Homo sapiens: one gene and its partner. The protein of the gene in region 1 purifies or fractionates together with the protein of each later gene. This does not show direct contact. Each region holds a gene or a part of one and is shown on either strand. Other genes may lie near its edges.

The links.
Region 2: the proteins of CDC42BPG (region 1) and THOC7 fractionate together in Homo sapiens (co-fractionation; one large-scale study listed by BioGRID). This does not show direct contact.

What each region holds. Positions count from the first base shown.
Region 1 is NC_000011.10:64,831,089-64,834,738, forward strand, and holds part of CDC42BPG (serine/threonine-protein kinase MRCK gamma), read right to left. Parts: intron 3,490-3,650; coding exon 3,341-3,489; intron 3,267-3,340; coding exon 3,178-3,266; intron 2,890-3,177; coding exon 2,837-2,889; intron 2,749-2,836; coding exon 2,650-2,748; intron 2,572-2,649; coding exon 2,512-2,571; intron 2,303-2,511; coding exon of another isoform or gene 2,249-2,302; coding exon 2,143-2,248; intron 1,872-2,142; coding exon 1,738-1,871; intron 1,656-1,737; coding exon 1,516-1,655; intron 1,422-1,515; coding exon 1,340-1,421; intron 1,040-1,339; exon of another isoform or gene 923-1,039; intron 634-922; coding exon 417-633; intron 1-416. UniProt on the Homo sapiens protein: May act as a downstream effector of CDC42 in cytoskeletal reorganization. Contributes to the actomyosin contractility required for cell invasion, through the regulation of MYPT1 and thus MLC2 phosphorylation.
Region 2 is NC_000003.12:63,833,356-63,836,723, forward strand, and holds the end of THOC7 (THO complex subunit 7), read right to left. Parts: intron 3,004-3,368; coding exon 2,946-3,003; intron 2,036-2,945; coding exon 1,969-2,035; intron 1,869-1,968; coding exon 1,799-1,868; intron 845-1,798; coding exon 777-844; 3' UTR 515-776; downstream 1-514. UniProt on the Homo sapiens protein: Component of the THO subcomplex of the TREX complex which is thought to couple mRNA transcription, processing and nuclear export, and which specifically associates with spliced mRNA and not with unspliced pre-mRNA.

The sequences.
Region 1 (3,650 bases):
ATGCCTGCAATCCCAGCTACTCTGGAGGCTGAGACAGGAGAATCGCTTGAATCTGGGAGGCGGAGGTTGCAGTGAGCTGAGATTGCACTGCTGAGCTCCAGCCTGGGCGACCGAGCGAGACTCTGTCTCAAAAAAAGAAAAAGAAAAAAAAAAAGCCTTTGTTCCTTCCACTTGCTTGAGATTCTTTTGGAAAAAGCAGAAACTGAGGCACAGCGAAATGGAGTGGGGATAAGCCAGGCCCCCTACCTGGGGGCCCAGCCATGCACACAGGAGGCTGGAGCACATACGTGGTGCAAGGCAGTCTGTGTCTCGTGGCTGCAGGGAATGGGCAGTAGCAGTGGCCCTTGGGACTATTCCTAGACACCAGCACTCCCGCAGGCCTGAACTGCTTCCTCCAGTCCCCTCCACCAGCTCACCGAGGATGGCAGCGCAGAGCGTGTGAGGCAGCAGCGGCAGCCCGTTGTCGTAAGCCTCCTTGAGTGTGTACACGGGCCGGGGTCTTGGCCGCGCGTCCAGCAGCAGCCGCTGCAGCTCACCCAGCACCTGCAGCCAGCGTTCCCGCTCCCCCTCGCTCTCTGCCAGCAGCAGCACAGTGCACGTGGTGGGCGGCACTGCCAGCTGGGAGGTTGTCACCTGTGGGCAAGGACCCCAGCTGGAGGGCCGTGGACCAGAGCCATCTGTCCTCCCTCCCTTCCTGCCTCCAGCAGCCGCTGTGCCCCGGGGGCCTAGCGTGCACTGTCAGCAGCAGGGAGTAGGCCAGACAGGCAAACAGACAACTCCAGAGCCATGCGACCAGCGCCATAATGGGGCAAGGACGGGCCTAGTGGGAACACAGAGGGACCCAAACCGGGGCCGGGAAGTGAAGGATGACTTCCCAGGAGACCAGACATTTCTGCTGAAGCCTGAGGGACGAGTAACTAACCAGGAGTAGTCAAGGTAGGTGAGGGGCTGGGCTCCAGTGCAGGGCCGGCAATTTCGTGCAAAGACAGATGTGAAGGACTGAGAATGTGGTGCACACAGGCACAGGGCGCCTTCAGAACTGGAGAGAGCAAGGTGTGACCAGAGCAGAGACAGGTGCCAAGGGAGAGGGCTGGGAGGCCTGCAGGGTCAGAGCCTTGGGGCCTCAAGGGCTAGGTCAGGAGCACCCCGAGCCCCGCAGACGATGGGAAGCCACAGCAGATCCTAAACGAGGTGAGACCGGGCCAGGTGCTCACGTGGAAAGCGTGCTGTGGTTGTGGGCTGGCCCAAGAGGGCAGTATGAAGTGGGGGGACAGTGGCCAGAGCTGGGACAGCATGGGGAGGTGGATGGTGGCTGCTCCATCTCATCCCAGGCACTCACCCTAAAGATGCGTGGCAGGTCCCTGGATTGGGCATGGATAACATCAGAGGCCAGGACAGGGGTAGCCGAGAACTGGGGGTCCCTGGGAGGTTCACAGAACAGGTCAGAAATCTCCCTGTCCCTGACTGCCCCCCTTACCACTAGTCCCTTGCCCCATGCCACTGCCCGGCACCTACCTCAGATCTAGGACCTGCAGGAGGGCCCCACTGGGCGGGCTGAGCCTCAGGTCAGGGGCGTCAAACAGCAGCAGGCGTGAGTCACTCAGGGCAGCAAACACGCGCTGCCAGCCCCGCCGGACACCTGAGGGCCGCGGCACCTGGCGGAAAGGCAAGCATGGGAGGGCTGCAGGGACCCTCAGCCCCCCATGCCCATCTTCCCCTCCCTCGGCCCCCACTCACCGACAGAAAGCCCTCATAGGCAGTGCCTGTGCCTGTTTCGGGGTGTACTCCCAGGGCTGTGCGGAGGAGGTCAGGGGGCACGGGGCAGGGTGGGGCCTGTGGGGCACAGGTTGTGTGACAAAAGTAGCCGCAGGCTGTGGGGAAAGTGGAGAAGGTGGATGAGGTGAGGCTGGGAGGGGACAGCCCCAAACCAGGACGGGGGCATGTCCAGAGCCAGCTTCCCTGAAGCCACGGTGGCACCCGAACTGTCCCCAATTCCTCATCAAGTGAGAAAAGGAACAAAGCTGAGCAGGAGGAAATTTGACCAGCAGGTGCCAGTGACCCTGGGATGGGAGAAACAGCCTGGGTATGCCAGGGCCACACACCTGGGACCGTGGCTGGAGCATAGTGGGTGGGGACTCTCACCATCACAACCCAGGCCCTGGCGGCCCAGGCCCAGCATCAGCGAGGTGCAGCGGAGACACTTGGTCGGGGATGGGAAGCTCCGGGGGCGCAGCGTGTGTGAGCCGGGCTGGGGAGGGGGACAGCCATTACCCAAGGCCTCCCAGGGCCCCATGCCCCATCCCTGAGGGGTCAGGAAAGACAAGGGGCTGAGCCAGGCAACAGTGACCTCCGAGTCCCAGCCAATCTATGGCGGCAGGCAAGCTCATCGCCACCACCTCCACCCCAATTGTGCCTGCTAGCCACGATGCACGTGGAGTGTCCCCACAGTGCCCATTCAGCCTGGCAGAACTGCTTGGTGCCCCCACCCTGCTTGCCCCTCTGGGCACTGACCTTAGCAGGAAGACCTTCTGTAGAGGCTGTGTTGGCAGTGGGTGCTCTGGGGAACACAGCCTGCAGGAGGGCGGGGGAGCAGGTGAGACGGGCAAGGGCGGGGCCCAGGCCCCCTACGATGGACCCACCTGTCCTCACCCCCATGCGCAGGCTGCGTCGGCCCTCCGGCCTCAGATCTGGCTCTCCTCCATGCCTTGTGGCCTCTCCTGAGATGCCAGGGTCCTTGGCAGAATCCTTCTGGGGGTGGGAGAGAGAGGAGCAAAGTCAAGGTCCCTGTGCCTCTCCCAGAACTTCTCCCCAACAAGCCCCTTGGCCTGGTCCTTACCTCTGAGCTCCGGAAGGACAGGAAGGGAATCAGGGAGTTTGAGGGCTTGGTGTCTGCAAAGAAAGGGTGGGTCACTGGCCTGGGGTCCCTGGCCTGAGGAACTAGGGTCCAGGAGGGGCCTCAGTTCCCACCTCAGTAAAATGGGAAATGACCACAGGGTGGGGCAGGGCTGGGCACAGCAGGCACTCCAGAAGTGCTGGTCACAGATGATGGAGTAAGCGGCAGAGTCCAGGAACAGACTCCTGTCTCCACCACCCTGCCAGGCCATCGTGGAGCCCCCTTGGCAAGTGGGAGGCCGCGGGGGAGCCTGGCTCCGGGGCAAGCAGTTGGCAGCCACTCACCCACTGGCCCTCGGGCCCGCAGCTCCTCCCGCAGCATGGCGAGCTCCTGTTGCAGGGCCTGGCTCTGCTTCTCGGCCTCCTGCAGACGGCTGGGGAGAATGGCAAGGGCTCGCCACTGGCCTCTGTGCGGGCCCTGGCCCCCAGTGCCTGCCCCTAGCCTCACCGCTCAGCCTGCAGCTGGGCCTCCTGCACCTGTGTCAGCCGCTCCTGCAGGCCCTGCTTGGCGCGGATCTCGGCCTCCAGCGCTGACTGCAGCTCCAGCCTGGCCGAGGCCTCCATCTTCTGCAGTCGCCGCGCCTTCCACTGGTGGTCCTGGTGGCCACGGAGCACCCGTATAAGATGCTTTCTAGGCCTGGCTGCCTCAGGGACCCCCTGCTACCAGAGCATCCTGCTACCCATGCCACCCAGCCAGGCTCAAAGCTCCAGCTCAGCCAATGACCCACTGTGAGCTCAGGGAAATCACTATCTCTCAT
Region 2 (3,368 bases), on another chromosome or scaffold:
TCCAAAGTGCTGGGATTAAAGGTGTGAGCCACCATGCCTGGCCTACGCAAAACAATCTTAACAAACTATTTACTTCAAACACTCTTCACTTTATCAATACATCTTTTTCTATTGAAAATGATTCCTAAAGAACAAAACAGTAGAGAAAACAGATCAACAAAACATTTGAGAACCATATTCCTCTCATATTAAGGAGAGATATATAAAGTAATGTGCACTATTTTACTTTGCATCTTATAATTAACGTCCCATACCAGCGAATTTTAACAGCCTGGAACCTCTCTCCACAATAAGCATACACCACTAACATTTTGCATGTAATTTCACAGGTTCATGGTCCTCCTAAAGCCTCTTCATAGACTCCGTTTTCAGAAGTGTAACCATTTCCAGAAATTGGCTCATTTTCCCATGTACATCCTAGAAATGCCAACTTCTAACAATTTTCAACTTATTTTGTAAGCCAATCAATGTTACCAGTTAAAAACTACCTAGAATATTAATGAGCACAAACATATGCAGCTTAAAAGCATTTTATTAAGCATTTTTGGATGTTGCTTCCTACCACTTAAGAATAAAAAATGCATTTTAATAAAAACAAATCTATACTGAAGTCATTTTCCTTTGTGAGAGGAAATATGAATGAAATACATTCATACTTAAAAACAGAGTATTTTACTGCCAAAACTTTAAATATCTCAAGAGCATACCACATTTTAAACACATTATGGTCATGTAGCTATTTCAATATTCCTGGGAGTGGTGGGCAATTAGCCTGTCTATGGCTTAGGATCTGTTTCCATGCTTGCTTCCTGAGCTTCTTCTACCTCTGAGAGTTTTTCATCATCTGTAATTGAGAAGGAAACATAAAACCTTAGTCAAGTTTGCCTATATTTTATATTCGATGAACACATGAAAACATGTTTATCCTTTATTAGCCAATACAATTAAAGCTAAGATGGCTACTAGTTGAATCAAACTTTAAAATTTATGTGATAGACTTCACTTAAAAAAAAAAAAATCCAGGCAGGGTCTGGTGGCTCATGCCTATAATCCCAGCACTTTGGGAGGCCAAGGCAGGTGGATCACCTGAGGTCAGGAATTCAAGACCAGCCTGGCCTACATGGTAAAACCCCGTCTCTACTAAAAATACTAAAATTAGCTGGGTGTGGTGGCATGCACCTGTAATTCCAGCTACTAGGGAGGCTGAGGCAGGAGAATCACTTGAGCCTGCAAGGTGAGGATTGCAGTGAGCCAAGATTGTGCCACTGCACTCCAGCCTGGGTGACAGAGCAAGACTGTCTTAAAAAAAAAAAAAAGAAAAGAAAAAATGGGTCTTAGGCTATTCTTTAAAACAATCAGAAGATCAGGTAACACAAAAATTTCCACTTGCCTATAGTGAATATAAAGAGCAAGTCTCCAGTTCCCCAAAGCACCCACTACTCAGTGGGTATGCAAATGTTCGTATGTACTGATTTCTTATTATTGCCTGCCTGGGTCCTGAGTTGTTATATTATAGTAGTCAACTACAGTGAACCAAGAAAGATTCCAAATCTATCATCCTTGAATTTTTCTTAATTTAAACCACTATGTATATGTTTAAATCCTATATTACTACAAATTAAGACTTTTCTACATGTATTCAAGAAAGTTGAACATGAGTACCTTCTAACGTCATCCAGCTACACTGTTCAGAAATTGAAGGTATACTGTCTCTCCAAGATGTATATTTCAAAAGGTACATCCCTGGGTCATTTAAAAAATCTTCATAAGCATTTACTTTGAGACTATTTCTACTTACTTTCCAATGTTTGCTGAAGTTCATGGATGGTACTAAGAAGAACATGAAACTGTTTCCGTCTCAATTCCAGCTGTGTTAACAAGAAAAAAATTTATACAAATGACCTGTATATATAGATATATAGACAGACAGATAGACAGATCATGAAGGCTAAATATATATGCGAATACCTTATCTTCAACACTTTCTTTAATGTGTGAAAGATGCTCTAATTCTTTTCCCAGAGCCTCTAGTTCCCTGGAAATAATAAAACAGTGTTACATTTTGCTGAATGGGGGAGAAGAGTTTACAATTAATGCCTAACTTTTAAGTTACTAGATAGGATTTTTAAAATAAAAAAAGGGCTTATAAGGAGTTATAACACTCCATTATGGTGAAACTTTTAAAGCTGAGGATGATTTCTTCTTAACTTCTAAATATGGACTCACTTTCATTAAAATTACATTTTTGGATCCATTTTTAAAGTACAGAAAAATACAGATAACAGAATAACAAGACCCAAGAAATGATACATATTGTGAAGTTTAACTTCGAGGGTTTTTTATTTTGGTAAAAGAAATAAAACATTGCCAATTAACTCGAAATACCCTTTGAATCTTACGCCTAGTCCTCTATCCTGGGCCTTTTTATCTCCTCTACCTCCCACTCAGGCAACTACTATATCATTCTTATTCTTTTTTATGCATATACTTGTATCCCTGAATAATACACAGTATTGGTATATAATATTTGAAAGGGGGTTCTAACTTTTATAAATGGTTATTATTCTGTATGTGTTTCAGGAATTTAAATATAATTTAAAGTTTATTATGTGTCTTTTCACTGATTATGTTTTGAGAGCTGTGTTTTAAAAGGGCATAACTAGTTTATTCTTTTTAACTGAAATTCAATATTTTAATATATGAAGACCATATTCTATTTATCCATTGTGATATTGATGCATATTATATGCATTTATTTTAGACATATAGCTGGTAAGGTTAGAGGAAAATAAAATCTAACAGAGAAGTATGGGAAAATATAATATTGAATATCTGACCCCTCCTTTTGAAACATATTTATTTCTGCAAAAATGAAATGCCTACGGTAGTTTTCGAGCATTTATGTATAAAGGTTAGTTCCTTTCAAAGTAAAGCTCTACACTTACTTTAATGTCTCATGCCTGTCTGGATGGTGCTGAATCACTTTTGCCAAAGCATCATATTCTGTAAGACATAAAAATATTTATCAAACTAAGGATTTTTTGAATGTGAATTATCAAAACAAAATGTGTAATATCACAAACCTCTCCTAATCACTTTCCTAGTACATCAAGAAATGAAATCACTGAAAGATGAGTATTGCCAGTTTTAGTTAACTGAGTTATAATTATAACGATACATAACATCAAAAGTGTTCCAAACAGGGGTTTTAGCTCCCACTTTTTTTCCATTTATATGTCCTGGACAGAACGTAAGAGGTCAGCATAAGCATAAGCAAATTTAAGTTATTATTGATTATCAAATAGACTGATTCTGAGAAGGATCTTACTCACTAGTTGTCCAAAAAGTAAAATAAAATAAAATACAAT